4 separate regions of the Homo sapiens genome follow, and regions 1, 2 and 4 are each linked to region 3. The links come from fine-mapping of genetic effects on gene expression. A gene starts in region 3. Each other region holds a variant in brackets. All regions are shown on one strand. Distances are between the middles of the regions.

What was found.
Region 1: its variant is fine-mapped to the expression of AUTS2 in whole blood (INTERVAL, PIP 0.93).
Region 2: its variant is fine-mapped to the expression of AUTS2 in unexposed skin (GTEx, PIP 0.95).
Region 4: its variant is fine-mapped to the expression of AUTS2 in whole blood (INTERVAL, PIP 0.98).

The regions. Positions count from the first base shown.
Region 1 is chr7:70,574,541-70,582,540 of GRCh38, forward strand. The region is part of intron 5 of AUTS2 (activator of transcription and developmental regulator AUTS2); the gene reads left to right. Among named protein-coding and RNA genes, the nearest start is that of GALNT17, 550 kb to the right of the region's middle. The variant GT/G (reference allele first, on the strand shown) is at 3,268.
Region 2 is chr7:70,593,814-70,601,813 of GRCh38, forward strand. The region is part of intron 5 of AUTS2 (activator of transcription and developmental regulator AUTS2); the gene reads left to right. It overlaps LOC124901668 (a long non-coding RNA gene), which reads right to left and starts at 1,735. Exons shown (of 2, transcript XR_007060375.1): 1 at 1,309-1,735. RefSeq lists an enhancer at 2,272-2,773 and a silencer at 2,343-2,542. The variant A/G (reference allele first, on the strand shown) is at 3,461.
Region 3 is chr7:69,593,870-69,602,049 of GRCh38, forward strand. AUTS2 (activator of transcription and developmental regulator AUTS2) reads left to right here and starts at 4,606. Exons shown (of 19, transcript NM_015570.4): 1 at 4,606-6,093. The coding sequence starts at 5,785. CT66 (cancer/testis associated transcript 66) reads right to left here and starts at 3,755. Exons shown (of 3, transcript NR_148927.1): 1 at 3,178-3,755; 2 at 2,786-2,822; 3 at 935-2,564. RefSeq lists enhancers at 3,776-3,855, 5,036-5,085 and silencers at 4,166-4,585, 4,606-4,685, 5,850-5,919.
Region 4 is chr7:69,280,538-69,288,745 of GRCh38, forward strand. It overlaps LOC105375345 (a long non-coding RNA gene), which reads right to left. Exons shown (of 4, transcript XR_927650.3): 3 at 5,613-5,771; 4 at 2,417-2,633. Among named protein-coding and RNA genes, the nearest start is that of CT66, 310 kb to the right of the region's middle. The variant G/GATAT (reference allele first, on the strand shown) is at 4,737.

The sequences.
Region 1 (8,000 bases), 980 kb after region 3:
TGTTTTGCTCTTAGCACCAGAAGTTTGGGCTTTTCCATTAAAATCAGTCAATCAGGAAAGAGTGCATGCATGCTGGGTTTTAACTTTAACACAGGCTGGGTTTCAACTTTCATGGTGAATTAGGACTGTCTCCTGCCATTCTCCCTTGGCTTGCTGCACTGTAGAAAACTGTGAAAGGAGCCACTAACTAGGGCAGACCACTGGCCCAATTTGAACAGGACTGCTTTGTTTTAGCTGGACCTAGAGGTTTAAATCACAAGACGGCTACTGGATTCCCTTCTCCCCGACCCCCTCATGGCCACCACCACTAGCCCTCTGTAGGAGGAGAACTTCACTGAGCACCTGATTACCTGTTCTCGCTTTAGGATTAGATCAAGATAGGACAGAGAGGTTGTTCATTTGTAGGCTTGTTGCCTTACTGTAGGAGTAGTTGGATTGAGTCAAGCCATCCTTTTCCTTGGGAAACAGGCCCCTGCCGCTTTAAGTGGAGTTGCTGGGTAATCGTTCCGCTCGGTTGCATAACCAGAAAGGGATGTGTCAGGACTGGGACCTGCAGACAGCGAAGGCTTTATTAAAACGCTCGCAGAGACCTAGACAGATGAGTGGTCTCCAGTTGGAGTTCTTTCCATCTTCCCCATCTGTTCACTGCAGTTTTAATTAAATCTACTGAGATTATTTTTGGCCTTCTCCAGGAACAGAAAGCCAGCCTGTGCCAATGTCCACTCGTTTCTGTGCTTTACTGCCAGCCACTAATGAGCAGGCACATGGGGCACCCCTGCCTGTGTGCACCCCCTTCCTTTGCCAGCCATCATGAGTTGCTAATAGGGTAGGAACTAAAAGTGCCAAGCCCAGGCCTCTCCACCTTCTCCCACCTCCACCCCCACCCTCAGCCCCACCTTGGTGCTAAAGAAAGCCAGCTAACGAATGATTCCACTTGTGGTTAGCTAGCTAATGGGAATGACAGGCTTCAAATAACCTTAAAGCATGCAGCCCCAATGCTTGTCTGTCTGATCAGGGCCCTTCTGCTGGCACCTGACACTTTCAATACCATAATGGCATTCACATGCATTCTTTTTGAATGCTGTCATATAGCAAGACCTTTCTTCTCTTCGTTTGCTGGGAGGATGCCTGGCAAAGCTATTAAGTCTGTGATGGGAATGACAGTTAACTGCGGGCCTGTCAGTCCCACTTTGGAAGTCAGCACATCCTTATACCCATTAGGAGCATATCATAGGAACTTCAGAAATAACCTGCTGCAAGATACCATCAGGTTGTTGCGCTGCCTGCAAACATACCACCCAACGAGCTTTGCACATCATTCTGCCCTGCCTCTCATTAAGGGTCTGGTTTGTTGATATTTGGTAGATATTTGATTTCTGAATTTCAGATTGGGACATAGTAATTACTTCTGGAAGGTAGCATGGCTGTCCCCAGGTAGTTGGCAGGTGGTGGTTCTTCCTATTTATGGTCAGTGCTTCATGGATTTGAGGACTTCTGTTAGTTGGGTTTCCAAGAGAAGTTGTGTCTTGGAATCCATTTCCCTAATTGACCCCCTAGGTTTCCAAAGCAGACTCTAGGCAGATGTACATTTTTTATTGCACTTGAGTCCCAAATTCTGGCCTAATCACCAACACCAGTGCACTGGGCAGGACTGTGAGTGAGCCTCAGTTTCCCCTCTTGCCCCAAGTTCAAGGCCTACAAGAGACCCATCTGAGTGGCCCACCCTCCTCTGCGCTCCCTAAGAAGGAAAGGGGTCAAAGAGAGGGATCCGAGTGGTCCAGAGCAACTGCTGCCCCTGCTGAGCTGTGTTTATAACTTCTCATTCCTCCCACTGATAGTCTCACCCCTCCACAGTGATCCCTTGCTCTGTTCTTGAAGACTCCATTTTCATTGACCCATATCAGCACTTGCATTTTGGGGTTGATGTTGTGGAACCTAAACAATTAGAAGGTTGGACTTAGAGCTTTTAGAGTCTTGATTTGTCCATACATACAGCTTGACTTTCTGCTAAGACACACGCTTCCACTCCTAACCAGCAACCGAGAATCAACATCTTCTGTGTAATTTCCAGGAAATGCCTTTCAAACTCACTGCCATTAGGTAGCTCTCCAAACTTCACTTAGAGGAACAATGTTTTAGAAGGATTCCAAAAATAGGAATAAGTGCAGTCCTTTTTCTCTAGATTGGCATTTTCTGAAATGTTTCCTGGAATAGTCTTTTCGTAATATATTAATAGACGCCACTAGGATAAAGGATTTTGTTTGAAAAGTGTTGGATTAGATCAAATTAAGCAAAGCAGTGGAGAGGGCAATATTATGCTGTGTTTACCAAACAGCTTTGACCACAGAACACCTAGGAACATTTCATAGATCCCTTGGAACACAGTTTGGGAAATGCTACTCCAGAGGATCTGGAGTAAGACAAACCAGCAGAGAACCAGAGTTAGCCTTTCTGGTATTCCAGTTTAGAACAGCACCATATGCTCTGCAGATAGAGGCTCTAATAACCCTATGACACCAATGCCAGGACTTTTGAATGAATGAGTAGAAAAAAATATTATTTAGTGTGCTATGTGTTGTTTTGCTTATGTAGATCCTTGGGAGAAATAACACTCTGATTGCAGAGTTACGAATAATTGAGCCTTTTTTGAAGAGTTGGTTTTCCTTTTATCTTGCAACCCCCATGAACTGTGCAACTGCTTAGCTTCCCATCATCACCGTGGCTGCTGGAAGCCTAGAGCCAGCTTCCTGGCCCATCTGTTATAAATAAGTGGTTAAGTGATGGGCAGACTTCATTTCCATCTCCACTGTGCATACCCACATGGTTTATTTTTCCTTCTTTTCTACCAATAATTTTAAAAATCCTCCCCCCTCCCTGTTATCTTTTAAAGGTACCCTAAATCCTTTTGGTCCTTTAAGGTACTTTAAATCCTTTATCCTTTTGGTCCTTTAAGGTAACTTAAATCCTTCGGTGTAGGGAATATGTAAGTGATACATAACATTACCTGTTACCAGTCTTAGCTACTTAATTGATAAATTGACATTGGCTTGTCTGAGATTATTGTCATTTTGGGTTGATCAACAAGGTTGATGAGCAGTTGATGTATAGCCACAGCTACGGCAACAGTTTCTTAGTTTCAGAACATACCATGTGTTTTGTCTGGAGACTCTCTAATCACTGAAACATGAAAACAATTTACTAAGCTATGTTTTTTTCCCCAACTGTGGCAACATCATAAAGCATTTTTGTTCATATGTGTTTTATTGG[GT/G]TTTTTTTTAATTTTTTTCTTTATTTTTTTTTTATTTTTTGAGATGGAGTCTTGCTCTGTCGCCCAGGCTGGAGTGCAGTGGCGTGATCTCAGCTCACTGCAAGCTCCGCCTCCCAGGTTCACGCCATTCTCCTGCCTCAGCCTCCTGAGTAGCTGGGACTACAGGCGCCCGCCACCACGCCCGGCTAATTTTTTGTATTTTTAGTAGAGACGGGGTTTCACCATGCTAGCTAGGATGGTCTCAGTCTCCTGAACTTGTGATCTGCCCGCCTCGGCCTCTCAAAGTGCTGGGATTACAGGCGTGAGCCACCGCACCTGGCCTTTTGTCCATATGTGTTTTGTCCTCAGTAGATTCCTAGTAGAATATGAAAATAATTTGCAGAAGATATCCTAGAAAGTTAGAGCTAAAAGGGACCTTAAAGATCATCTAGTCTAGAGATGGCAAATAAGTTTCGATTGTCCTGCTATCTATGGTTTGTTAGTTGGCTGCCTGGAGGCTTGTATTGAAGATTCTGGGCCATGAAGGCATCAAAGGCTAAATCGATTAGTGATGTCTGCCATGAGCATGGCATGAAGGCAAGGAAGTGTGCATGCTGCACATTTTCTGTCCCTAGTTTCTCCCTTTTGACCAATGAAATCACCTGAGACAGAGGTGGCACTAGAAATCACGTCTTTATTCTAAGTCCAGGACTCTTTGTAACCCCATCTTGCTGAAGTAATTATTTTTCTTCCAACTATAAACGTTAGTAAACTAGAGCACCAAAACAATATGCTTCTTCTAGATTTGCCATTGAGTTCACTGTAAAGTGAAATACAAAACCAAGAATCAGTCCCCCTCTTCATTATTTTTCCCAACTTCTGATATAGTTGAGGAACGAGGCCTATTCTATACTGGGACCTACCCAAATTTTTCTTGTTTATACTTAGCCATATTATCATGATTTGGTTTTTTTTAATTAAGACTGTTTTGGTAAGACATATTCTCCAGCAAATTCATTTTCCCTGGGTCCTTCTTTGGTTAAGCATGTTGCTAGCTATAGCCAAACCAACAGGTCTAAGATGCCTAAGTTATATTATCTTTTCTTTTCTTCTTTCCTTTCTTTCTTTTTTTTTCTTTCTTTTTTTTTTTTTGAGAAACAGAGTCTCCCTCCTTTGCCCAGGTTGGAGTGGTGCAGTGGTGCGATCATGGCTCACTGCAGCCTCAACCTCCCCAGGGTTCAGGTGATCCTCCCACCTCAGCCTCTCGAATAGTTGGGATTACAGGCACATGCCACCACACCTGGCTAATTTTTGTTTTTTTAGTAGAAACAGGGTTTCACCATGTTGGCCAGGCTGGTCTCAAACTCCTGAGCTAAAGCAATCCACCCATCTCGGCCTCCACAAGTGTTGAGGTTGCAGGCATGAGCCATCATGCCCAGCCTTATATTCTCTTTTCTAAAAAAAAAAAAAAAAAAGATGAAGGGAGGAACATTTTAGAAAAATCAAGTTAGGCAGCTTTGCTATCTCAGTATGCAATGCTGAGAAGTGTCACTTTAACAGACTTAATCCTTTCAAATAATAATTCAAATGAAATTGAGATGAACAGTTTGGCTCTTAAGGACTTTTTTTCTTGAGACAATGGGATTCTTTTTTCTAAGCAATTAATTTGCTAATAAAAAAAATGGTGCTGCCCTGTTCCTTATTTGCTTTATTTCATGAGAAATCAGGTTGGCAATCTTGTTCACATATTTACCCATGGAACATTCCATTCCATCTCCTTCAATGCTGAAGACATGGGTTTCAAGCCTACCCTGCCCAGGGATAAGACAGAGCAGGTGCAATTAATAAACCATCTTTTCAAGCTTTCCTTCCAGTGGTTTGTAGACTGCTTTCTCCTGACATGAGTCAAGCTATTTAATGTGATGGAATTCATCTTGTAAGGCTCTCTCCATTCAGGCTAAGTGATTGAATTCACAATTCCTCTGATTTAGTGCCTCGTTTGTCACTTTCTTGAGGAGAGGTTTTTGGACCCATTTAGTTGGGAGATTGGCTGGAGCAGGAAGTCGGGGAGAATCTGCCCCTAAGCCACCATTTCCTTCCACTTCAAACATGATTCATAATCAGTCTGGAAGAAGCAGGAAGATAGAGGATGACCAACTGCTCTGAGAAGCAGGCTGCTGTGAAGTTGATTACGTTTGCAGGACAGCCTCTAAGATGTCTTCGAGGCCAGGACACAGACCCTCTAGAAGCCAGCCATTTTAGCCACTTGGGGCTCCACAACACAGTGCCTTCGAACGTAACCAGCACTGACTCGGTGGTGTGCACTGGGCCTCAAAGCACATTCCCGTCTCTTATCATTCAGTAGCCCAGTGCCAATTAGAGTGGACGTACTAGACGGTTTCACTCTTGCAACCCTGAAACAGTGGAGTTTCAGGGCTGAAAGCCAGTCTGACTTCATCCTGACCTTCAGCTATGCACATGTGCCCTGCGCTGTAGCGTGGCTGCCTGCTGAATGGGAATGGGGTAGGTGTGCTTGTCCCAGCATCATTGACATTCCAGGAGGCTGCTTCCTGCCGGTCCTCCCCCTCACCAGGTACCATGTTTCCTATTAGTTCTTCAGGAAGGAAGGCAGGTCAAAAGGGTGGATGAAGTAGGTCAGAAAGAGGGCAGTCTCTAGTAGGAGGGGACACAGACTTATTTACTGGTAGGAATTCTCTCCTGTGGAAAAACAGTTCCGAATTCAGCCTCAGGATACAAGCCCCACCTCTGGAGGTGCTCAGGCCATGAGGGCTGCAGCTGCAGGTCTTCTGTTCGTCAACCTTTTTCTCTTGAGCTGAACACACCAGACTCCCTGCAGAATTGCTTGGGTGTGCAGGGAGAGTCAGGTTATTTTTTAATTGAAAAAGACATTTTTTCTTGAGAACATGGGAACACTACAAACCTTCAAGGCAAATGGAAGAACAAATAGATGTTCCAGTGTCTAGGCCCAGAACAGGAAGTTTTACGTTGTGTTTAACAGATACGACAGGATTTGCAGAGGAACTTTAAAGGAGCCCAGGAGTCCGCTGAAAATGTATTTAAAGTTTTGTTTGTGTGCTTGTGCATTTGCCTCAGAAGATGGTTCTTGGCTTTCATCAGATTTTCAAATAGAATCTGTAACCAAAAAAATAGTTGAGGCTGGGTGTGGTGGCCCATACCTGTAATCCCAGCACTTTGGGAGGCCAAGACAGGAGGATCACTTGAGGCCAGGAGTTTGAAGCTAGCCTGGACAACCCAGTGAGACTCCTTTGCTTCAAAAAAAATTTTAAAATAAGGCCGGGCGTAGTGGCTCACGCTTGTAATACCAGTACTTTGGGAGGCCGAGGCGGGCAGATCACCTGAGGTCGGGAGTTCGAGACCAGCCTGACCAACGTGGTGAAACCCCCATCTCTACTAAAAATACAAAAAAATTTGCCGGGCATGGTGGCTCATGCCTGTAATCCCAGCTACTCGGGAGGCTGAGGCAGGAAAATTGCTTGAAACTGGGAGGCGGAGGTTGTGGTGAGCCGAGATTGCGCCATTGCATTCCAGCCTGGGCAAGAAGAGCGAAACTCCGTCTCAATAAATAAATAAATAAATAAATTAGCCGGGTGCGATGGCATGTGCCTATAGTCCCGGCTACTCAGGAGGCTGAGGTGGGAGGATCGCTTAAGCCAGTGAGTTCTAGGCTATGATTGCACCACTGCATTCCAACCTGAGCAACCTCCAACCTGTTTCAAAGAAAAAAAAATGTTGAGATTCATTGGGCTCTTAACCAGAGACTAACTATGCACACGCCACTTTGGAAATGTATGCTGTTTGTTACCCACCACAGTACTCTCACCCACCTGACCCCTTCTCCCTATCCAACCTTAGCCTTAACCAAGAACAGACCTGGTTCCTAGTAAGCCATGTTTCCATTCACCAAGGTTTGGGGAGCCTTCCCTGACTATAAAAGAGACTCTGCTATCACTTTTATTTCATCTTAATTCAGGCATTTTTTTAATGTGGTGTAGTTGACTTGTTTCTAAATTCCTTTACATTTTGTATTGTTCACACAGTAAAAATGTCTATTTTACCATTCCCCATTCTAATTTTTCATCATTTAGTCAAAGGTGGGGCCAAAATTGAGCTTTAGTCTATGTATAGTAAGGTTTTGTTTCATTTTGTTTTGTTTTCTTTCAACCAGAAGAATAAAATCAGAATTTTAGAGCTTGTCTTACCCAACCCACTTTTTTTTTTTTTTTTTTAACCAGAGATGTTAAGTCGTTTTTCAAGGTCAAACATCTAGTTGGTAGTAGAGGTAATGAGTTGTTTTATTCTTTGCTCTTATCGAAGAAAGGAAATTATAGAATTAATGGAATTTTATGAAGTTGGGGGTTTTCTTTATCGTTATCATTAAAAGAACGCAGTGTGGTTTTATGAAAGCCTCACACAGGCTGTCTTCTCAGCCCTTTTCAGACCCGCACTCTTTCCTCCATCCACATCCTCTCCCTTCTCCCCAGCCCCAACCCTTCCTTCCACGTCAAGCTGAGTATACAAAGCATCCCATATTTCAGGCTGAGGCCTACGGAGTGGGTTCCCACTGGACCCTCTAGCAGCCTGCATTCTCCGACTTGAATGGCTGCATGTGGAGAGTATGTATATTTGTTCAGAGCTCTTGCTTTAAGTTACCCCTTCCCACCACGTTGCCCAAAGAAATAGGAATGTGAGGGGAAAAGGAAAGGAAAAATAC
Region 2 (8,000 bases), 1.0 Mb after region 3:
CCACAGTCAGGACCAGTCACTTGAACAGCTCCCATTTCCCCAGAATGATTCTATAGAGAGGCAGGAGAACCCTGGACCCTGAGCAGGAGACTTCAGTCCAGGGGCCAGCAGCGCAAGCACAGCGTCATAGAACATCATAGAACATAGAACATTATTCTGCTCAGGGCAAAATAATGTGGGCTGCACAGTCTGGCCCAGGCAGCCCTCAGTGTTGTGCCCTCAAGTGTTGAGATGACAGGAGGATGGGGTCAGGCCAGTGATCCTCAAAGTCAGAAGAAGAATACTATGCCTCAATCCTACTCATTTCCTTTCCAAACTCTCCCTAGAGGGCCTCTAACTGTGGCTGAGGGGAGGGGCGGCACTTTTTGATACACGGTGCAACTTGCCCACTTTGACCCTGACCTTTGCTCTGTCCCCTTCAGGTGACCCTGGCAAGTAGCTTTTTAGAGCAGTGGTTCTCAAACTTGAGTGTGTGCAGAATCCCCTGGGGTTGGGGGGCAGGGCTTTGAAAATACAGATTGCTGGGCCCCACCCCTAGAGTTTCTGATACAGTGGCTCAGGGATGGGCCCAATAATTTACATTTCTGACATCTGGGTTCCTGGATGCTGCTAGTGGAGAGAACCGGTGATTTGATAGCATTGGTGAGCTGGCTCAACTCTCTGCTCAGGAAAGTGACAGGATGCCTCAAATGCTGAGTGCTGCGTATTCAAATTCCAAACACAAGGCAACTAGGATGGGAGCCCTTCTAGACTCTGTGTATTCAAGGACCAGGGAGAGGCTTAGCAGCTCTCAGCTCTCCTGGCACAGAGAGAGTTCTCTGAAGCTTGCTGTTTTTCTCTCTCCTACTTTGATAGTTTCCTCCATTTGTATGGGCGGAGGTTGCAAAGGCCAGAATAGACTCAGCGAGAGTGGGAGATGGGGGTGAGTGAGTGTGTTCACTTTTGATGAGGAGCAGATGTGACAAGCACTAAAATGGAGTGGGCAATAAGAATTATTACTAGCTGAGGCCGGGCACAGTCGCTCACACCTGTAATCCCAGCACTTTGGAAGGCCGAGGCGGGTGGATCACCTGAGGTCAGGAGTTCAAGACCAGCCTGACCAACATGGAGAAACCCTGCCTCTACTAAAAATACAAAATTAGTCGGGCGTGGTGGCACATGCCTGTAATCGCAGCTACTTGGGAAGCTAAGGCAGAAGAATTGCTTGAACCTGGGAGGCGGAGGCTGCAGTGAGCCGAGATTGCACCATTGCACTCCAGCCTGAACAAGAGTGAAACTGTCTCAAGAAAAAAAAAAAAGAATTATTACCAGCTGCTTTGTGGTCAGGATGTCCCAAGCTGGCACTGCAGCAACCGCTGTTAGGGGGCTTGGTGCCATTTGCAAGGATGTCATCCTCAGCCACTGGTTTCTAGGCAGCCCCTCCAGGAATTCCTCTTCCATGCACCTCCTTGGGCAGAGCGTTGAGGTGTGGTGGCTGAAATTCAGGAATTATTGTGGAAGCTTGAGTTTGCATGCCCACTCCGTTTCCTACTAACTAGCTCAGGGGCGGGGGAGTTTCTGAACTATGTTGGCATAGTTCAGAAACTTAATGTTTAAGTGTCTTAATGTATACGATGGAGATAATGCTCTCTGATTTACTGACCTCTCGGGTTGTGGGCTAGACACCAGAGTTTCAGAGTTCTCGGTGCACTGCTGTGTATTCCTGGGAATGCCCCTGAGGGTGGAGCTCTCTGTAAGGAAGGCAGCCCCAAGGGCAGGGCTGGTCTCTTTAGAAAGACTAGGAATGAGGACACCCGGCGTCCAGGCCTAGCTTTTCCACCCACTCACCTTCACAGCTCCTTCATCCTTTCTGCTTCAGTTCCCTCCTCTGTAACATGAAGTTGGAGTAGATACTTCATTCAGAGCATCTTCCGGCTGTAAATGGCTTGAGCCCATTGTCAACTGGAAGACAGAGTGTGACGTCTAAAAACCCAAACAGCAAAGAGCATCTCTTCCAAACCACCCAATCTGGAGAGGTGGGGCAGTTTTGTGGTTCCGGCACCGACACCGTCCCTTTCACACGGTACTGAGCCGCGGGCTGCTTCGGGGCGGCCCTCCCCGCCCCGTGCCTTGCCGGGATGGCAGAGCGGATCAGAAGCTGCGCGCGCTCTGCCTGCGCGCTTTGCCTGCGCGCTTTGCCGCCGCAACCCGCGCAGCAGCCAATCCGCTGGTGCACTGCAGGTGACCTCCCCCGGGCCCGGGAATAAATTGTCAAGTTTCCCCACCGTGGGTGTCTTTGCTAGCCGGCGAGTTGCAGTCTTCTGAGCTAATTAGGAGACGGTCATGAGGAGCGAGGCGGGCCGGGGCGCTCCGCGGGCCGGGGCGGGGCTGGGGCGGGCGGCGCGCAGCTCCTGGGCCGAGGCATCCGCGAGCCGCGGGTAGATCGCTCGCGTCTGATCGCCGCCCGGGAGCTCCCGCGGAGCCGGCTGCCAGGACTCGTTCCAGCTCCAGTGCGGGGCTGCCCGGGCGTCCAGAGGCGGCGGACGGCGTGCCGGCAAGTTTCCCCGGCACCTGCCAGTGCCCGCGAACCCACCTCGGAAGCCAGACCCGGGGAGGCAGAGGCAGAGGCCGGCTGGCTCCAGCCGTGGTACCGCACGGCTGCCACCCTCGGACTTCCGTCTTGAGTCTCCTGAGGCTGAGAAGCAGCAGATGCCGAACCTGCCCCCTGACGTGGACGTACACCTCAAGACCTAAAATGCGCCCTGCCTGGAGACTTTGAACTTAGTCTTCTGGAAATGCGGAGACCGCTTCGGGTGGTTTTGTTTTTGCATCCTCTTCGGCTAGGTTTGGCTTTGGGATTCTCTGGCTACCTGGATACGCCTTTCCTTTGTGGGCAAGTCTCCCGCGGATCGCAGCACCAGCAGCCAACCCTGGGGCACACCAGCCTTTAAAACCCCCGAGCCTGGAGACGCATGGAGCTAGAGAAGAGGACCCAACTCCTGACCACGTAAGGACTCTGATTCCACCTTTCCCGTGATGGAGAGAAATATAATTTCATGGCAGAATTTTCTTTAAGCACATTGTCTGATAGGATTGGCAATTACTAACCAGGAAAATGAGTAGCAATTAGGAGTTCAGTAATAAATGGAAGTCTATTGTCCTAATTGAGTGGAATTACTGACTGGTAATGGCAACACTGAATTCTTCAGTTTAATTAAGAGTTTATATAATTATAGTGCACTTTTTATTTCTTGGGGGAGCCATGGGGTAGGAATTAAATAACCAGTGTGATGGTTAAGAAACCCATTTAATGGGTAAGTAACCAATGAGTTGAAATGAATGTGAGTGCCTTGCTCAAGCAATGCAAACTTAGATGAATTCCTGATAAAGAGATGTAACAGCTTGGGCCAAGCAAGACTTTCAGCTGCTAATTCCTGTCTGATAAAAATCTGAACGGCTTAGAAATGATTGGGTAATCTCT[A/G]AAACTGGCACACTGAAACTGTTTTAGAGATACCAGAGCTCCCTCTCTCCTGCCGGGGTATTAACCCCGATTTGTGCTCTCTGTCGCTGTGTTTTCCACATTCTTCAAGAGTGAAACGAGTGGGTCATTTGAGAGTGCTTTTGCAGCCTGGGGTTTCTGTATGGAAAATCTTGTGATTGAGCTGTTGAGCTGTAAATGTTGATAGCTGAAGGGGATAGACAAGCTTCATCGAAGTTACTCAAATTCAAAGCAGAGTGAGTATGTAGGTGTGCAATTTGGGAACTAATCTGTAATTATAAAGATGTTATTTTCCTCTTTGGTGGTGTATTGTTTCCTTTACTATTATGTTCTCAAGAAATTGTTCCCCTTGTGGGAAGCAGTGAAATTGGAGAGAAATCCCTGCTCAGAGGATAATTACTTATATTTTTGGTGTAGGTTTCTGGGAATCCTTTTAACCCTACATTGGGATGCACATATTTATTTCCATAAGAAGCTCCAGCAGGTTTGGAAATCACTAGGTTTTGAATACACTGGTAGATAATTAGCACTTCAAGTAACAATATTTATGCCACTCTGTACCTTGACTTCTTTTTCTTGCTTACACGAGGTCTAGATTTTCAACAGGATGATCAGGGACTACCTTCTCTAGAGAGCTTGCATATTGCAAGTGGGTTCAGGGAGCACCATTATAGTTGCATTTCACTCCAGAAGAGACAGTGAGTGGCATGGAAGGGGCATTGCATCTTGAATACTGCATGCGTTTTAAAGTTTGCAGAGCTTATTCATAAATCCGCTTGGTTAATGAGAAAAAAGCAGGTATCGAAAGACGTTTGCTGTATGTGTGCCTCCCAGTCTCAGCCCTTCCAGGTGCTTTGCAGGTCCCTAAGTACAGAGTGTCACTGTCCAGAATTTTAAGGGCTTACCTACCCTGGTTTTTCCCCTCTCCCCTAGTCCTGTTTTGTCATTGCTACCATGAAAATCTAGCAAAAGTGTAGAAAGTTGTGTCCTTCCAGAACCACGGTTTCTCAGTGCAGGTTTACTGTATTGAGCGCCCACTCCTTTTCTGTTTGTATTCTGCCCAAGGCACAGCAGACATTCACTCCTTTTATTTCCCATGAAATTGTACAACAGGCAGAAGCTTGAAGATACAACACGGATGGAAATTTGAGCCTTGTAACGTTCAAAAATGACACAATTGCCAAGTTTCCTAACTTTTCCTAAGAGTTGATTAAAGATCACAACTTCATATCGCTCCTTTTTCCCTATGCATTTGCCGTCCATCACACACCTGACTGTGAGCTGTTGTAATAGCTAGATGAGGTTTAAAAAAAGAGGGAGTAGGGGCTCAAGGATTGCTGTCCTCTCAGAAATGTTGCCCAAGGCTACCCTAAGGCTCAGCCTACCCCCAGATTCTCTTTCTGACAAGTGGGTGTTTGGTAGGATGGTGTGAAAGTTTCCTTCTATGATAACATCTTTAAGATTTGTTTCCAAATTCCCTTTTTTTTCTTTTTGTAACCTGCTGAGAATATGAGTCTGTAACCTATGTATTTATCTGAAGTCAGCCTGAACAGATAGAAAAACTGAGTTACAAGGTATGGGACTCCCAGTAAATTAGGAACAGATGTGGGTCAAAAACAGATTTCCAAACTCTTTATCAAATGATCCCACTTGGAAACAAGACATGAACAGGCCTAACTACTCTTAAAATGCAAGGTTTGTCTGAGGGCAAACATGCTGGAAAAGATGGTGGCCACCACCCTGCCTCTACTTTTCTTTTCCTTTCATCTTTCTTCCCACCGTCTTTGGTTCCCTGCATAGGCTGTGTAGTGGGTATCAGTCAGCACTTGTCTGCTGGTTGCACAATGCAGATTACTCACTTCTGCCCAAGTAACTCCCTGAAGCCGTACTGTAACAATAGAGCATATAAAAAAGAAACTCAGGTTGATCTTGGCCCCTGTCCAAGGGGATTAGCTAGGGAGCACCTGAAAGGCCTGTGTTGAACACACTCACCTGTAACCCAGTTCCATGGCCTGGATCTCAAGGACAGGGTAATCTCAGTACCTTTTAATGACCTAGTAAATGTGGTATCTTTCTGTCTTTACACTCGACCTGATGGCTCATAGAGTCTCCTCATTATGGAGCTGGAGGAGTACTTTGAGGTCATCTAGGCCCTCACTACTCAAAGTGTGGACCATGGGTCAGCAGCATTGGTATCACCAAGGAGCCTGTTAGAAATGCTGAACCTCAGGTCCATCCCTGGATTTATAGAATCAGAATCTGCGACAGGTTCCCCAGATTTCTCATATGCATTATGACAGGTGGGGTTGTCCCATGATCCAACTCTGAGATGGAGTTTAGCCAGTGGCGTATTTATTAAGGAGTGCCCTTTGGATCAATACCTATGGGAAGGAGGAGGAAGGAACAGGAATAGGTAGGTAGAGCAAGAAGTCAAGCAGCAATACAGGCCCAGTGACAGTCATCACTCACAACACGGGAAGCTACACAGCTAGGTCAGCCTTCTAAGTTGTCTGTGGTGGGCAGGGATGGCCAGGCCTTTCAACTCACTGCAGACAGCACTCCCAGCAGTCAGCAGCAAGTCTGTCATTAGACAGGGATCTGGGTAGCTCATCACAGTGTCCACCACATGCACTGAAGTTGGGAGAAGCTCTATTCTGGGTCACTGGTTCTCAAAATGTGGCTGCATACCAACAGGACCTTCAGCACCCCGGGGACTCATTAGAGATGCACATTCCTGAGCCCCACCCACAGCTACTGAATCAGAAACTAGGGTGGGGCTCAGCAACCTGTGTTTTCACACGTTCTCCAAGTGAGTGCTGCATGCCCAAGTTTCAGAACCACTGCTCCAAGGCAGCCTTTTTTCTGTTTGTTTTGTTTTCTAATTGTTATTGAAATGATTCACAGTCCATCTTAATAATAAAATTCACCACTTTAAAGTGTACAATTCAGTAATTTTGTGGGGTTTTTAGGTTTTTTGTTTTGTTTTGTTTTGTTTTGTTTTTGAGACGAAGTCTTGCTCTGTTGCCCAGGCTGGAGTGCGGTGGTGCCATCTTGGCTTACTGCAACCTCTTATCTCCTGGGTCAAGGGATTCTCTCGCCTCAGCCTCCCGAGTAGCTGGGACTACAGGCGCCCGCCACCACTCCTGGCTAATTTTTGTATTTTTAGTAGAGACGGGGTTTTGCCATGTTGGCCAGACTGGTCTCAAACTCCTGACCTGAAGTGATCTGCCCACCTCAGCCTCCCAAAGTGCTGGGATTACAGGCACGGGCCACCGCGCCCGGCCCAATTCAGTAATTTTTAGTATATTTATAACCTGTTTAGTATATTTGCAACCCTCGCCTTTACTTCCAGAACATTTTCATTATCCCCAAAAGAGATCCCACACCCATTAGCAATCACTCTCTGCACCCCCTCCCAAAGTCTGGCAGCCACTCATCTGCTTTCTGTCACTGTGAATTTGCCTGTTCTTGATACTTTATTTAACTTGAGTAATGCAGTATGTGGCTTTTGTCTTGTTTCTTAACGTTTTGAGAGTCAGCCAAGCTGTAACATGTATCAGTACTCCATTTCCTTCATGGGACAAATCATATTCCATTATTTAGACAGTACCACATTTTGTTTCTTTATTCATCCATTGATGGTCATGGGTTCTTTCTACTGTTTGGTTATTGTGAATAATGCTGCTGTGAACATTGGTGTACAAGTTTCTGTATGGACATATTTCTTCAATTCTCTTGGGTCAATACCTAGGAGTTGCTCAGTCATATGTTAACTCTATGTTTCACTTTTTGAGGAACTCCCAGACTGTTTTCCAAAGTGACTGTACCATTTGACATTCTTACAAGCAGTTTATGAGAGTTCCAGTTTCTCCGTATTATCTCCAACACTTGTTAATATCTGTCCTTTTTATTATAGCCATTCTAGTGAATGTGAAGTGGTATCTCAGTGTAGTTTTAGTTTGCATTTCCCTAATGACTAATGATGTTGAACATAGTTTTCATGTTTTCATTGGCTATTTGTACATCTGCTATGGAGAAATGTCTATTCAGATCCTTCTTAGGGCAGCTCTTTTTGTTCCTTAAGGAATCCCTCAGTATGTCAGCTTTGTGTCCAGTCCTGTGCAGGTGTTTTAGGATTTATGAAACAAAGCCTACAACCTGTGGCCATTACCCACTGGAAAGTTCTAATCAGATGTGAAACTGTCTAAAAAGGGGAAAGGAGGACAGGAGAGCCCACTGTCGAGGGTTAGCATGAAGAGATTCACATTCTATTACAATTCGTGCTTCAGAAAGACACGGTGTGACTTGCTAGGATAGAGTGGTGTGTGTCAGGGATGTGGCGGCTGCAGACTGCTGGAGAAGACTGGGAATGTTGAGAGGAAGAGGAACAAGTAGAGAAGCGGGGACAGGAAGTTGTGGGCAGACCTTCTAGTATTCTTTTATGGGTTACACACACCTGTAAGAGGGGATCTCAGGAGCCCAAGATTTCTTTCAAGATCATGACCTTCACCAGCCTCAGCAA
Region 3 (8,180 bases):
GAAGAGGCTCTCCTGAGTTAAGTAGTTTATTCCTGAACACAGATGTAACTTTTTCCCTTTGTATTTTCCAGAACCACTTGACTGTTTTCCCTACTATACAAGCAACCTATTTTGGAATTATTTCTTTAGCTTTACTCTTTATCAACTATAATCTTTTGGGCAAAGAATTCACCTAAGCTTTTGCTGGTATGAATTATGAGTTCATTCATACTGGCCATTTCAAGTTTAAGCTTTAACTTTCATGCTACCCAGTAAGAAATCTGATAATATGCTATATAATTCATCTTGGTTTACTATATGGTATTCCATTGTACAGCAAATGTATTGTAGGATTCCATTTATATGAAGTACAAAAACAGACAAAAATCATTTATGCTATTAAAAGTCAGGATAGTGGTTACCCTTGATAGGGAGGTGATGACTAAGAGTGGGCACAAATTTGGCAAATAGTATTGTATGAATAAACCACATCTTTTTTTTTTTTTTTTATTTTAAGTTCTGGGATGCATGTCCAGAACGTGCAGGTTTGTTACATAGGTATACATGTGCCATGATGGTTTGCTGCACCTGTCAACCCATCATCTAGGTTTTAAGCTGCGCAAGCATTAGGTATTTGTCCTAATGCTCTCCCTCCCCTTGCCCCCCACCCCTCAACAGGCCCCAGTGTGTGATGTTCCCCTCCCTGTGTCCATGTGTTCTCATTGTTCAACTCCCACTTATGAGTGAGAACATGCGGTGTTTGATTTTCTGTTCCTGTGTTAGTTTGCTGAGAATGATGGCTTCCAGCTTCATTTATGTCCCAAATAAACCACATCTTATTTATCTATTTTACTATTCATAAGCATTGGGTAGTGTCATTAATAATAAAAAAAAACGAAGTATTATATAGGTACTCATATGTACACAAGCAATACTCATATGCATTTATATATACACAGCATTTTAAAGCTTTTTATTGAAGCATAATTTACATACACAGAGATGCATATATCAATAGTACAGCTCAATGAATTTTCACAAACTGAACACACCAGTACCCAGCTCAAGAAACAACACTACCAGCTCCCCAGAAGCCGATTGGTGTTCTCTCCTAGTCATCAGCTCTCTCTCAAGGGTAACCACTATCCTGACTTTGAATAGCATCAATGACTTTTGTCTGTTTCTGTACTTCACATAAATGGAGTCCCGCAATTGTACATCTCCCTTTTTTCACTTAGCACATTTGTAAGGTTCATATATTTTACTGCATTTGGAAGCAGATTGTTCATTCTTAGTGTGGTAGAATGTACTCTGTTGTATGAATATACCACCAATTATTTATCTATTTTACTGTTTATGACCATTTGGGTTGTTTCCTGGTTGGGGGTTATTTATGAATAGGGTTGCTCTGAGTGATTTAATAGTCTTTTGGCACACATGGGACATTGGTATATTCCTAAGCGTGGAACTGCTGGGCCATAGGGTTTTCATATGTTTAACTTTAACAGATATTGCCAGTTTTCCAAAGTGGTTGTACTATATACCTAGCATTTGACTTCCTGAGGAATCATTCTAAGAAGGGCATTTCAGCATAACCATTAAGAGAACAGGTTTTGGAGTCACTCAGATCAAATTTAGCTTATGACTAAGGAGTGGAGGCACCTTGGACAATATGCTTAACTTTAAGCCTCAGTTTACTCAACTGTAAAATAGGAATAATAAAACTTTTCTCAAAATTTATGAGAATTAAATGAGATATTATTTTAATGCAGTTAGAACAGTGCCTGAAACATAATAAATGCTTAGCTTATTATATGGCAGTTATTAATCGCTAGCAGTTAAAACACAGGCAAAATGGAGAATTAGAAACAAATATGGGCAATATAATCCAGAAACAATTTTAATTGTATGACTGAAGAAACCTAAGAAACTCTGACCCAAAAGGCATTGCTAATTCCAGGGAAGATTATATTGAATGCTGAACATTATCCCAAAATGCGTTTGCAAATTACCCTCACCAGAGGCAAGGTTCTTGGATGCAGTGTATTATCATTCATTTTTTTTTCCAGTTATTACTCTTTAAAGACAGGACTGCCAAGGGCTACTCTAGAAAGTCACTAATATAATACCTTTTATTATATTTCCCAATTTCACACCTTCCTCAACCCAATCCCCAAAGTTGTTGAAAGGTGACTGTAATTGCATCGTTAGTTCTTAGCTTTCCTGGAATCTTATCTAAGACAACTTTCACATCCCCCAAAACCCTAAAAATAAGCCCAGATTTTTGCTTTAAATTGCGAAGAACTTGCTTTATTTTGTAGGATGAGCTTGATAACCTCAGCGTGGATTTCAGCAGCTGCCGGAAACAGCACTCTAGAAGTTAACACAGGTACGCTCCGTACTGAGGCACTGTTTTAGCTAACTGCTCCAGGGACAGCAGGCTCAGTCCTCTTAGGTAAGTAATTTTGGAAGGTGGCACTGTGTTCCTAATAAATTGAATCAGATCCCTTAGGTTAGTCACTATTCTTAAGAAATAAAGCACGAAATCAACTTGAAGTCATCTGTTGAGAAGGCCGTGGATAGACCTGAAAAGGAACATTTTGAACATTTAATTGAACCTCTTTGATTTACAGATGAAAAAACTAGTCATTTAAAAAAGTCTTGCCTAAGGTCAAATGTTTTGTTTCCTGGACTGGCATAAAGCTCATCTGTCACAGTCGGGTGGATGTTCCTTTCTGTTCCTGGCAACTTGACCCCCCCGTCCCCCCAACCCCATCTCTCCATCTGATTTCATAAAGATCCAGACCTGGGATTCAGAAACGGGGAAGCTGAAGGAGTGTGACCTAAAACAAGAGAAAGACAAGCTATTAAATTGTTATTAGGAATTATAAGACGAGAGAGGCTTGCCTGCTAGAACGTCAAGAAGCAGTATCTTTTCTGTTTTGTACAACGCTGTATTCCCAGCACCTACAACTGTGCCTGCTAAGCCTGGTAAGGCCTAATAATTGTTAAATGAAAAACAATCAATCACTCAATCATAGATGTGTCAGATTGTGAGAGAAAACACGTCCTTACTGTTTTCTCTACCACCCTCCTTCCAGTAATACTAATAAAATGTGCACATTTGTATTCTAAAGAGGTGAAATCATATACACAGCGCTCTAGCACGGTGCCTGGCCCATTGTAATTAATACATGCCAGTTTATTTTCCTTTTCTTCCTCCACAAGTATGGGCTACTAGGGAGGACGAAGGGTTGGTGCCGTGGTGTTTATGTGCCTGGACAGAAAGTGAAGCGTATCCAAGAGGCTGCTGAGAGCGGGCTGTCGGTCTTTCTGATCCGTATAGATCAATTCCAGTGCCCTGAAAAACGCACAGCTATTTTACCCAGAGAGGCTGGTCGCTTTTGTTGATCGATTCTCGGCTGCAGTCAGCTCTTTAATACAACTTTTTATGAGCATCAGCCACATTGCGGCGGGAGGAGGGGCTGTGGTGGAAAAAGCAGGGAAACCGCCCCCCACTCCCAAAAAGTAAAGGAAGCCCGCGGGGCAGGGACTGCGGTTTGCCGGTCTAACGGGTCCTCGAGCTGGGGCGGCGGTCCCGGCCCCTTCGGCCCCGCCCCTCGCCCGCGGCCGCCTCCGAGGTTCAAGTTCGGCCCCCGGCTGTTAGGCCTCGCGCTCCCGGATCTGAAGCCGCCCGTGCGTCCCTAGGTCCCCCGCTGGAAGACGAGGCGGGAATCCCAGGGGTCATCCGGGCGCGGGGTCGCTCGTCCACGCACTGTGGTGCCACGTGGAGGAAAAGTTTCCAACTCTGCCAGTTGGTGCTCCCACTGCGCCCAGGCGGAGCAAAGGCCCGCGCTTTGGCACCCGCTCCCCGTTCTGTCTCCTCCAGTCGCGCCCCCTCCCAGGGACGCCCCCCTTGTACCCCTTCTCTGAATTCCCTTCTCTCCTCGCAGCGCAGGTAGCCAAGGGAAAACACCCTTGGGGGCTGGTGGGGCTTCCCGAGAAGGCGGCCTCGGGCCGGCCAGGGGTAGAGGATCCAGGGACAAGTGTCCCGAGGAGGATGTGGGGGGCGCGCGCGCGAAGTGGCCTGGGAGCAGGGGCCCACACGCGTCCCCGCTGCGACAGGCGGGATCCTCCGGCGGCTTCCACGCCCTGGCGCGCCAACTCTGCCCGGCCGCGGCCGACCCCACGCGGGCGCCCCCTCCACGCCCCCGCCCCCGCCCCCCTCACAGCTCCCCACCGCCCCCAGTGCGCAGGCCCGGCCGCCCCAGCGCGCATGCCCTGGGCTCGCGAGCGCGGCCAGCCCCCAGCCTTTTGCTTTCTACACACTCTACAACTGGGGAGGGGGCGGGGGAGGAGGGAGCCCAGCCGTCCACGTGATCCCGCCGGCCGGGGCCGCGGGGGCGGGAGCGCGCGCCGAGAGAGGCGCGGGGAGGGCGGGTGCGCGGGAGCGCGCGCACTCGAGCGAGCGAGCGAAAGCACGAACGAGCGAGCGAGCGAGCGAGCGAGCGGGCGGGCGCGGGGTTGGGCTGAGGCGGGCGGCGGCGGCGGCGGCGGCGGTGGGCTGGCCGCGGAGGGGGAGGAGCGGGAGCTGCGCGAGGCAGGCGGGCGGGCGGAGGATGGGGCAGTGCCCGGGCTCCCGCTGCAGCCGCCCGGGGACACGCCGTGCACCCTCCGGCTCGGGGCTTTCTCGGCGGCGGCGGCGGCAGCAGCAGCAGCGTTAGCGGCGGCGGCGAGAGCAGCGTTCCCGGCTGCGCTTCTCCCTCAGGCGGGGCGGCGAGAGAAGCGGCGGCGGCGGCGGCGGCACACCGGTGTCTCTCCCGCTGGAGATTTCTTTCTGCTTTCCTCATCGACTGACTGACTCACCCCCTCCCTTTTTTGAGGAAGGGTGACCTCTTCTCTGGGACTGGAAAAAATATTTTTGTGAGGAGGGGGGCGGGTGGCAGCGACAGGGTTTGCTTCTTCTCTTCTTTCATCTCCCTCTCCTCCCCCCTCGAAGACCGAAAAGCAAACCCCACAACTGCTCCAGCAGCATCCTCCTTCCCTTCCTCCGCCTCCCTTCTCCTCCGCCGCTCGCAGTTTCGCCCTCTCTTCCGCTAATGATTGCATTATTATGCTCCCCTCTCTGGGGGGTCTCGCCCCTCTTGGGTCGCTCCGGAGCCCCGGCCTCCCCTGGCTGCATTTCTTAAAAATTTGGGAGCCTGGGAGTGAGTTTTCTCCGAGGCGTGTGTGAGAGGCGGCGGGGGTGTTTTCCTGCGCGAGGGGCGGGTGAAGTTCATTGCCCCCACTTTTCCCGCGACCTTTTTCGGACCCGATTTTGGATCGAGTTGAGGGGGGCGCGGGCGTTTTCGGGGGGCGGGGGGCGCGGCGGAGAATGGCCGCGGGGAGGGCTCCCCGGAGCCTCCCAGTCTCTTGATCAAAGCATTCCGCTATTCTGATTTATTGCTTGCTTGGTGAGTTATTTTTTTTTCCTCTAAAGGAGACCTGTGTGTTCAGCCATTACTTTGCTCGGCGCTGCTCCCAGGCATCTCCGACCCTCGGTGCTGTGGGGAGCCCCACACTTGGGCTCCTCGCCTCTCGCCCTCGCTCCCCGTCCCTCCTCCCCTCTCTCCGCCCCTTCCCCCTTTTCTTTCTCCTCTCTTTCTTCCCCTCTCTCCCTTCTTTCGGCCGCCGTCTCCCCCGCGCCCTCCTCGGGGCGGAGGGAAGCCGTGAAGGGGGAGGGAGGGCTCGGTGTCAATTTTTTTTTGTGTGGCTGCGGCCGTAGCCTGTGGCGGGCAAGCGGGGAGACCCCGGCGCAGCAGAACCATGGATGGCCCGACGCGGGGCCATGGACTCCGCAAAAAGCGGCGGTCGCGGTCGCAGCGAGACCGGGAGAGGCGCTCCCGGGGCGGGCTGGGGGCCGGCGCGGCCGGCGGCGGCGGGGCTGGCCGGACCCGGGCGCTCTCACTCGCCTCGTCGTCGGGCTCCGACAAGGAAGACAATGGGAAGCCCCCGTCCTCCGCCCCGTCCCGGCCCAGACCCCCGCGGAGGAAGCGGAGAGAGTCCACCTCGGCAGAAGAGGACATCATTGATGGATTTGCCATGACCAGCTTTGTCACTTTTGAAGCGCTGGAGGTAAGGGGGACCCCCCTTCCCCCGGGTTCCCTTTATGCACGACCCCACTCGGCTGCGCCCGGCTCTCCTGCCTCCCTCGCCGCGCTCCGGGCTGTCTGTCTGTCTGTCTGTCTGTCTGTCTGTCTAGGCTGAGGTCTTATTGTTGGTGGGGGGAGCTGGGGGCGCGGGCAGACAGGCAGCAGGAGGGAGTCGCAAAGCCGTGCCTGGTCTCGTTTCCTCGCTCGCCTTTCCCCTGCGCCCCCTCCCTGCACCCCCTCCACAGCAGATGGGCAGAAAGAAAGGGGTTCGGGCATCACAACAATGCGCCCCCTCTCCACAGAGAGCTCTGCCCCCACTCCTTCCTCCTCTCCCTCCCCAATCATGGCTTCTTGGCTGGTGGAAGTCTCTTTGCTGGGTTTGGGGCGCCTGTGGACGGTTCTGTGTGCTTTCTACAGAGTCATATGTTCGTGTGTGTGTGTGTGTGTGTGTGTGTGTGTGTGTCTGTGTAGTATATACCTTTCCCGGGTGTCCTCGGGACTGGAGACTGATGGGGTTTTGTGATTTCTTTGCGCCTCCCCCCATTACCCCCCCATATTCTTTTTTTTTTTTTTTTTTTGGTGAAGCTGGGGAAGGGGGCGTTTTCTCCTGGTTGGGAGAAAGGAGGGAGGAGGGGAGAGAAGAGGGAAGGGTGGAATAGCTCTCTGTATTCTGTATGGGGTTCTGTTACAGAAAGGGTTAATTATAATATTATCTATACACATACATAGGCACATGTGTGTGTGTACATGAGCAATTTAGTTAAAGGACAGAAAAAGGTACACCAGGGAAGACTGGTGGGAGGGAAGAATAAAATCCTAGCTGCTATCTGAAGGGCTTGTCACCAATTGTCCCTCTCCCTTTCCTTTTTTGTGTTTTCTTTTTTTTCTTTCTAAGTGATTGGCTTTGTGTGTGTCTATGTGTGTGTCTTTCTTTATTCCTTGGGCACCTGCAGCGTTGATTTTCAAATGCACATTTTCCTTCCAGCCAACTGGCTCCTAGGGTAGGGGGAAAGGGAAAAGGGAGGGAGGGGGAGACTGTCCAGGGTTGGGGGGAAACTGTCTTTGCCTGGACCTGTCTCCTTTGGTGTGGTATTGGTCATTGGCCTCTATAAATTTAACCGCCTAATTTCCTCCCCCACCTCCCTGTCCCCACCCCCCACACACCATGCACACACACACAGAAGGCTTTGAGATTCTGCAGAGTTGGTCCACCTTTCTTAAGCACAAAACCAAGATACGGTTTATAGTTGGCTTATAGTGTTTCATGCACCTGATGTGATGGTTTGAGGTTCCTGAAGGAAACTTTTCCCTTTCCATTTTTTTTTTTGCGTTATTATGGTATTGTTTCACATGCTCAGATGCAAGCTTTGTTAATGACAGCTTAAATCTCACATACGGTAACTGTACAGGTTTAGATTGCTGGTTCTGTTTATGTGTTTGGGTGTCAGCTTTAAATATTTTTTTCAAAGGAAGGCTTCCTATCAGTGTTGTCCTTTTCTGTGTGAACTGCTTTTGGTTTGGGCTGCTGGTGGTGATGGTGGTGGATGGTGGCCAGTGGTTGGGAGTAAGGGAGGTATTGGTGGTGGTGGTGGTGGTGCAGGTGGTGGTGATGGTGATGTTGGTGGTATTGGTGGTGGTCGTAGATTTTGATGTTAGTGATTGAATCAGTTACTCTCTGGTTCTAGAATTGGTGCTTTATTGGCCAAAATTTTGAGTGTTGAGGTTCACCACTTATTAGAATAATTCCAACTGTGGCTTTAAGTTTGCCAAGGTGGGTGGTGGTTACCATACAGTGTGACCTCTTTCTGTCTCTCTCTCTTGTTTTAAAATAGGAGTTGAAATGGCAGCATGTTCCTATTAGAACATGCTGCTTGGAATTTGGTTCATCATTGCTGTCTGTGGTTGTTTTGGAAAGTACTTGTAAGAGCTGGTTACAAGTGGTTCTGCTTTCTGCATGGTTATCCTGAGCTCAGCAATCAAGAGGGGCCACTGGATTCCCACGAACATTTTTGGAGGACAAGTAGGGATATATGTGTGTGTGTATATATATATATATATATATGTGTGTGT
Region 4 (8,208 bases), 310 kb before region 3:
AGAATTCTTCTCCCTGCTCCTTTTCCATAACCTGTTTTACCAGGATCCAGGCCTCCATTCTTTCTGTAACCTCAAAATGGTCTATAAGCTTCTGGTCTTCAACTCCTGACCTCAAGCAATCCTCCTGCCTGGGCCTCCCAAAGTGCTAGGATTACAAGCATGAGCCATTGTGCCCTGCCAAGATGGCATACAATCTTCTGTAACTCACTGGGGTGTTGGGTCTTTATTCTGAAGGCCCTTGTGTATACATGTTAAATAAATTTGTATGCCTTTTCTCCTAGTAATCAATCTGCCTTATGTCAGTGATTTTCAATAAACCTTTAGGGGGATAAAGCCTTTGTAAAGGCTGGTGGATCTGCCTAAATCTCTTCCACCATAGAGCAGCCTGGATCACTCACTCACCTCCATTTAGGCTTTCCTCAAATGTCACTTTCTAAGCAAGGCCTAGCTTGTCTACCATATTTAAAACTGCACCTCACCCCTGTACTCCTGTTACCCTCCTGTGCTTTTTATGTTACCCAGAATAATTTGTTATACATGAATTTATTTACTATATGTATTGTATTTTATATTATATATTAAATAATATATCTTTATTACATTTATCATATTATAAAAATGTATTATATTTATACTTATTGTTTTAAGTGGAGATTTATTCTCTCTCCACTAACTCAGTAAGCTCCTTGTGAATGGGAATCTTTATTTTGCTCACAGACATATTCCAATGATATGTTTTCGCTGTGTCCCCACCCAAATCTCATGTTGAATTGTAGCTCCTGTAATTCCCATGTGTCATGGGAAGGGCCCAATGGAAGGTAATTGAATCATGGGGATGGGTCTTTCCCATACTGTTCTCATGGTAGTGAACAAGTCTCAAGAGATCTGATGGTTTTATAAAGGGGAGTTTCCCTGCACAAGCTCTCTCTTGCCTGCCGCCATGTGAGACATGCCTTTCACCTTCTGCCATGATTGTGAAGCCTCCCCAGCCATGTAGAACTGTGAGTCCATTAAACCTCTTTTTCTTTATAAATTACCCAGTCTCAGGTATGTCTTTATCAGCAGCATGAGAGCAGACTAATACACCCAAGCACCTAAACTGGTACCTGATGCATAGAAGATGCTCAGTAAGTATTTGTGGACTAATGAATAAATGTGTGAATGGATGGGATATATGTCTTCAGCCCTAGCTGATGCTTTGTGCATCATAGGCGTTTAATTATTGCTTACTGAAGGGAAAAGCTCCACAATCAGATCCAGTTCACGTTCTTGATGACAGCAGCCCTGGAAAAACCAGTGTTTGCTATGATCTCATTCTTCCTGCTTGAATTTTTATTCTTAGAGACAGGGTCTTTCTGTGTCACCCAAGCTGGAGTGCAGTGGTGCAATCATAGCTTACTGCAGCCTCCAACTCCTGGGCTCAAGCAATCCTCCCACCTCAGTCTCCCAAGTAGCTAGGAATACAGGCGTATACCACCACACCTGGCTAATTTTTAAAAATTTATTTAGAGACGAGGTCTCACTACGTTGCCCAGGCTGATCGTCAATGCCTGGGCTCAAGCGATCCTCCCACCTCAGCCTCCCAAAACACTGGAATTATACAGGTGTGAGCCATCTTGCCCAGCCCTCCGTTTGCATTTTTAGGTCTAAACCACAGTCATGGACCCTGTGAGGTATAATCACGATGAAGGGGAGTTCAGAGCTCACCAGGATCCCTGGCCTCACATCCCCTCTAGTCAGCAATAGGTGAGCCCATTTCCTCTCTACTTGCCCTACCCTGGGGACCCTCCTCCTGCAGACAAGGACACCAGCTCTCAATCATCAGTCTAGTCTTGCTCCTTATCCTGCTCTGAGGAACAGAGAGGCCAGTGTGGCTGGAGCACAGTGAGTGAGAGAACCAGGGATTGGAGACACCAGTGGAACCCACATGATGCATGGCCTTGGAGTCATGCAGAGAAGTCTGGGATTGTCTAAAAGCAAGGGGAGCCTGGCGCAGTGGCTCCCACCTATAATCCCAACACTTTGAGAGGCCAAGATGGGAGGATCACTTGAGGCTAGGAGTTTGAGACCAGCCTGGGCAACATAGTGAGACCCTGTGTTTACAAAAAAAAAAAAATAATAAATTAGCTGGGCATGGTGGCACATGCCTGTAGTCTCAGGTACTCTAGAGGCTGAGGTGAGAGGATCACTTGAGTCCAGGAGTTCGAGGCTGCAGTGAGCTATGATCACACCACTGCACTCTAGCCTGGGCCACAGAGCAAGACCTTGTCTCTAAAATAAATAAATAAATAAAAATAAAAGTAAGGGGAAGTTGATGAGAATAATAAGCAAAATAATAGCTAGCCATTGTATTTATAGCAAGGTGCATATGTTTACTAAGACTTATATGTATAGTAAATTAACATTAACTATCAGGTATTGTTATAAGTACTTTATTTACACCAAATCAATTCTCAAAAATTTGTGTGAGGTAGGTACCATTGTCCCCATCTTACAGCCGAGGAAACTGAGGCACAGGGAGGTTAAGGAGCTTGCCAAGCTCACAGAGCCTGTAGGAGGTGGAAGCCGGAATTCAAATCCAGGCCATCTGGTTTTTCAGTTCCTGTAGGAAGCACTGGGCTGTAATGTATTTCCTGCCGAGGATTGCACAAAAAAAGAATTATTTGGACTTTAGCAGGAAGGTGGATTGGGGAGGGGTGAGCAATGGAAATAACAGATTAATTGAGAGGTCTTTATAGAATTCAGGTAGGAGATGTTGGTGGTGGACATAGGGTGGTAGCAATGAAAAACAGAGAAAAATGAACAGATTTAAGATACATTTGCGATTTGGGAAGAATGAAAGCTGATTCCTAGCTTTTGAGCTTGAGCAACTAAGTAGATCGCCATGCCTTTGATGACACAGGAACAGGCTTGGAGGTGGAAAGTCCCCAGAACCCAGTATCCTTGCCCTTGGATAGTCTCTGAGCCCATGTCAATCCCGCAGCCACATGCTAGAGAAAGCCTAGCACACGGGTGCCAAGGTTAGCCTGCACTGGTGAGCCCATGCCAAGAACCACAAAAGCCTCATTTTCTTTAAAACACAGGGCTTGGCTGAATTCCCCACCTAGACAGAGGCAAGCGCATTACTTCATCTTGTGAGCTGCATTACAGCCTCTGTTTTCGTGTATCTATTAGCGAGGCCTCTCAGCCGAAAATCCAGCCAGCCCATCAATCACTCCTCCCGGAGGCCCACAAACCAGGCAGCAGAGGCCGAAATCCCAGTAGGCATCTGTCAGCATTTGCCCATGGGACCAGGCCCCAAAGACTTCCCTGTTTATGCATAGGAGGTCTTGTTTCTTTATATTTTTAATTAAAAGCAGATTTTTATCAATCCCCCCACAAAATCTATTGGGGGAACTTTAATTTTGCTTCCAATCTCCCTATTTAATACTCCCCTAGTGCCCATAAAAAGCTGTGGTGTTTCAGTTCATGATTTGAATCTTTACAGATAATTAGTTGGCAGAACGACTTGGAGAGAGAAGCAGGTATATATTTTCACGACTTGGTCAGGAGTGGGTGGGAAAGTGGTGGGAGAAGCATCCCCAGGCAGTCTTGGCACATTTTGGCTCATGAAACATCAACAGCAATTCATTTAAAGACATGTTCATTTAGGTTCTTTGGCTGCTGCCATAAAAAGTGCTTTTCCCCCTTATTTCTGGCATGTCTTTATTAGAACACCTCTAGGCTCTTCCACCTTCGACTCCCCTTTCACCGTCTGTAATCATTTGACTTAACCTGCTCCCGCCACCTCAGCCTGGCCCTGAACCTGCAATCTTCTTCTCTGCAATTGTCTTTCCTGCAATGCGCTTTTCTCCTGCCTTCTCCACCTCCTCCCTCTTGATCAGCTTGCACCTCACAGTCCCCTCCTTCCCCTCCTGTCCCCCATTCCTTCCCCTTTCAGGCTCAACTGCTATTCCCATTAACTGACCACGTTGTGTGTGGGTCAGAAGATTTGTTGGAACAAATGTACTCACCAAAGCCTGATGAGAATCTTGTGAAATGACAGTTTTACACACACACACAACAACATCTGTACTCGCTCACCCCCACTCACACACATGCTTCTTTGACATCTGAAGAATCTGAGGCTCCTAGAGGTTACAAATTTTACTCAAGTCCTTTTCCCCCTCTTTCCCTTCCTTTTCACTCTCCATTATCCTTCATCTCAGTTAAAAAAAATATGTACGCTGGGTGCAGTGGCTCACGCCTGTAATCCCAGCACTTTGGGAGGCTGAGGGGGACGGATCACCCTGAGTTCAGGAGTTTAAGACCAGCTTAGCCAACATGGCAAAACCCCATCTCTACTAAAAATATAAACATTATCCGGGCGTGGTGGTGCATGCCTGTAATCCCAGCTACTCAGGAAAATGATTTGAACCTGGGAGGCGGAGGTTGCAGTGAGCCAAGATCGCACCAGTGTACTCCAGCCTAGCCTGAGCAACAGAGTGAGACTCTGTCTCAAAAAAACAAAATGCAAATACATGAATAGATACACATACAGACATATAGGTAGACGGTCAAAGAGACAGGTACACAGAGGGACAGACAGACTGACAGAAGGTCATACACGAGGATAGTTACATAAATAGAAGAAAGGTAGACAAACACAGATAGATGATAGATAATAGATAGATGATATACAGATAGATAAATAGATGATAGATAGATAGATAGATAGATAGATAGATAGATAGATA[G/GATAT]ATAGAGACAGATAGAGAGATGATTTGGCTCTGTGTCCCCACCCAAATCTCACTTTGAAGTGTAATTCCCATAATCTCCACATGTCAAGGGCAGGACCAGGTGGAGGTAATTGAATCATGGGGGCAGCTTTCCCCATGCTGTTCTCGTGACAATGAGTGAGTCTCACAAGATCTGATGGTTTTATAAGCATCTTGCATTTCCCCTGCTTTCACTCATTCTCTCTCCTGCCGCCCTGTGAAGAGGTGCCTTCCACCATGATTGTAAGTTTCCTGAGGCCTCCCCAGCCATGTGGAGCTGTAAGTCAATTAATCTTCTTTTCTTTATAAATTAACCAGTCTCGGGCATTTCTTCATAGCAGCTTGAGGACAGACTAATATAGATAGATAGATAGATAGATAGATAGATAGATAGATAGATAGATAGATGATAGATAGATGATACATATATACATACATGGATAGATACATAGATATGATAGATAAATGAGAAAGAGACTGCAATAGCTGGCAAAAATCAACCAAATATCCCCTCCATCTTTTGTCCTTTTTCACATGAAGCTCTCCCATTTGCATTTCTTACTCTACTTCTTCTCCTGTAATCTTCTGCTAGGTGGAATTGTAACTTGATGAAAACTCCATGAGGTAGATTTTAAAGACTGGGAACAATAAGAAGTAGCTAAGAGGGCTGTGTGGTGGCCCAGGTGTCAATCACAACAAATGAGCCAGGGGTGAGAAAGCTCTTCCTTTGTAAACAGTCAGATGAGCCAGGGGGTGGGAAAGCTCTTCCTTTGTAAACAGTCAGGTTCTCACATGTGGGAGGGTGTCAGATCAATTCATAATTCAACAGGGTTTAATGTGCAAGGGGAGGTGCCTTACCATGCATTTGAATTACCCAGAGGACTTCTTAACCCACAGATTGTTAAGCTCTACCCCAAGAGTTTCTGCTTCCACAGATCTGGGTAGGGCCTGAGAATTCACATTTTCTGGATAATGCTGATTGTTGCTGGTCCAGGGACCTCACTTGGAGAACTGCTGCTGTAAAATAATTTTTCAGAGGCTATTTTGGCTACTATGTTGATGTTCAATCATGTCCCTTTTAATTAAATCCTATTATTCAGCATATTTGAAAATGAAGGGCCAGGTGCAGTGGCTCACGCCTGAAATCCCAACACTTTGGGAGGCCGAGGCAATCAGATCACTTGAGGGCAGGAGTTCGAGACCAGCCTGGCCAACATGATGAAACCCCATCTCTACTAAAAATACAAAAATTAGCCGAGCGTGGTGGTGCACACCTGTAATCCCAGCTACTTGGGAAGCTGAGGCAGGAGAATCGCTTGAACCCAGGAGGTGGAGGTTGCGGTGAGCTGAAATCGTGTCATTGCACTCCGGCCCGGGCAACAAGAGTGAAAGTCCTTCTCAAAAAAAAAAAAAAAAAAAAAGGAAAAAGAAAAAGAAAGAAAATTTTGTTTAATACACCCCTAGGCTTCCAAGTTACCAGATCTTTTGGGCCTGAATCAAGAGATGGTTTGACCCTCCCCACAACATCACATTCAAAATCATTCCTCTCAACAGGACAAAATTGGCAGGGAGCCAGTGCAAAATGAAAATGTAGGACCTCTTATTTAAAAATGATTACGAATTTCAAGACAGCGATAGCAGAGCATCAACCAAGTGCCTGACCCTGTGCGACTGTGTAGGTTGCACCCAACCAGTGTTGCTAGACGGAGCTGATAGACCCAACATTCTTGTCCCACTCTGGGGAAGTTCTGTTCTTGTCCAGCATTTTGTGCATGGGATTAAGGGGTGGTCCTTGGGTCCACAGTCTTCCTGGGAGTTCATCAGCTCCAGTACAAACAGTCCTTGCCCTCCATTCATGAGGGGCTCATTTGAAACTGCATCCCACAGGGCTCTCCCTGATCTGATTAAAAACTCAAGGCAGGTGGGTAGAAGAAGAGGCCTCCTAGGAATTTCTCTCTTTTTTCTTTTCTTTTCTTTCTTTTTTTTTTTTTTTTTTTAGACAGAGTCTTACTCTGTCACCCAGGCTGGACTGCAGTGGCACAATCTCAGCTCATTGCAACCTCCACCTCCTGGGTTCAAGTGATTCTTCTGCCTCAGCCTCCTGAGTAGCTGAGACTACAGGCATGCACCACCACACCCGGCAAATCTTTGTATTTTTAGCAGAGACGGGTTTTCACCATGTTGGCCAGGCGGTCTTGAACTCCTGACCTTAAGTGATTCCCCTGCCTCGGCCTCCTAAAGTGCTGGGATTACAGATGTAAGCCACAATGCCTGGCCTCCCCTTAGGAATTTCTCACACTCGCTTCCTCCTCCTGAATGATTGCTAACTCCCTCCAACAGCCATGCGTGCATTTCCTTCCTTCCTTCCATCCTTCCTTCCTTCCTTCCTTCCTTTTTTTGAAATGGAACCTCACTCTTTCTCCCAGGCTGAAGTGCAGTGGAGTGATCATGGCTCACTGCAGCCTTGAATTCCTGGGCTCAAGTGATCCTCCTGCCTCAGCCTCCTGAGTAGCTGGGACTACAGGCATGTGCCACCACACCTGGGTAATTTTTCATTTAAGTTTTTGTAGAGCTAGGGAGTGGCTGTGTTGCCCAGGCTGGTCTTAAACTCCTGGTCGCAAGCAATCCTCCCGCCTCAGCCTCCCAAAGTGCTGGGATTACAGGTGTAAGCCACCACGCCTGGCCTATCTAGCATCTTAAAATTGAATTGAACTGATTTCCAAGCAGATGCCCATGAACATGAGCATTTCCTGTTTGAAGGAAAGAGACAGCGAAGTCTTAAGAACCACACCCTGTTTCTAAAAATGGGTCAGCTCATTACTGGCAGGCATTCTCCGAGGTCTCGAGGGCAAAATAAGCCAAATACAAAATGGCTATTAACTTCCTGAAGTTTCAAACCAGCTGGGGAAATTAGAAAAACTAATAGAAAAATAGATCTTGCAACCCTGAAACCAAAGTAAATGAAAAAGTTTCGAGATGAAGTCCATCACAAGGGAGAGAGTTGCCTCCCCAGGACGGCGTCTCTCTAGAGGGACTGAGTTCCAAACCCCAGTGCAGAAAGGTTGTTAAGGAAAATCAAAGAAGGTTCTGGAATTTGGGTTGCATATTAAAATCACCTAGGGAGCTTTAAAAGGGAAAGACAAAACTGAACCCAGACACTACCACAGGCAATTTGATAAGGATTTTTACTCCATAACTTTTTAACATTTTAGATAGAAAATTTTAAGAACACACAATTTACAGAGATCACCATGATGAACCCTCATGTACCTCATCAAATATCAGTAACTCACAACTACGGATCAATCTTGTGTCAACCTCTGCTTCCACCCACTTCCCTCTCCACCCCAAAATAATAATTTTTTTTTTTTGAGATGGAGTTTCACTCTTGTTGCCCAGGCTAGAGTGCAGTGGTGAAATCTCGGCTCACTGCAACCTATGCCTCCCAGGTTCA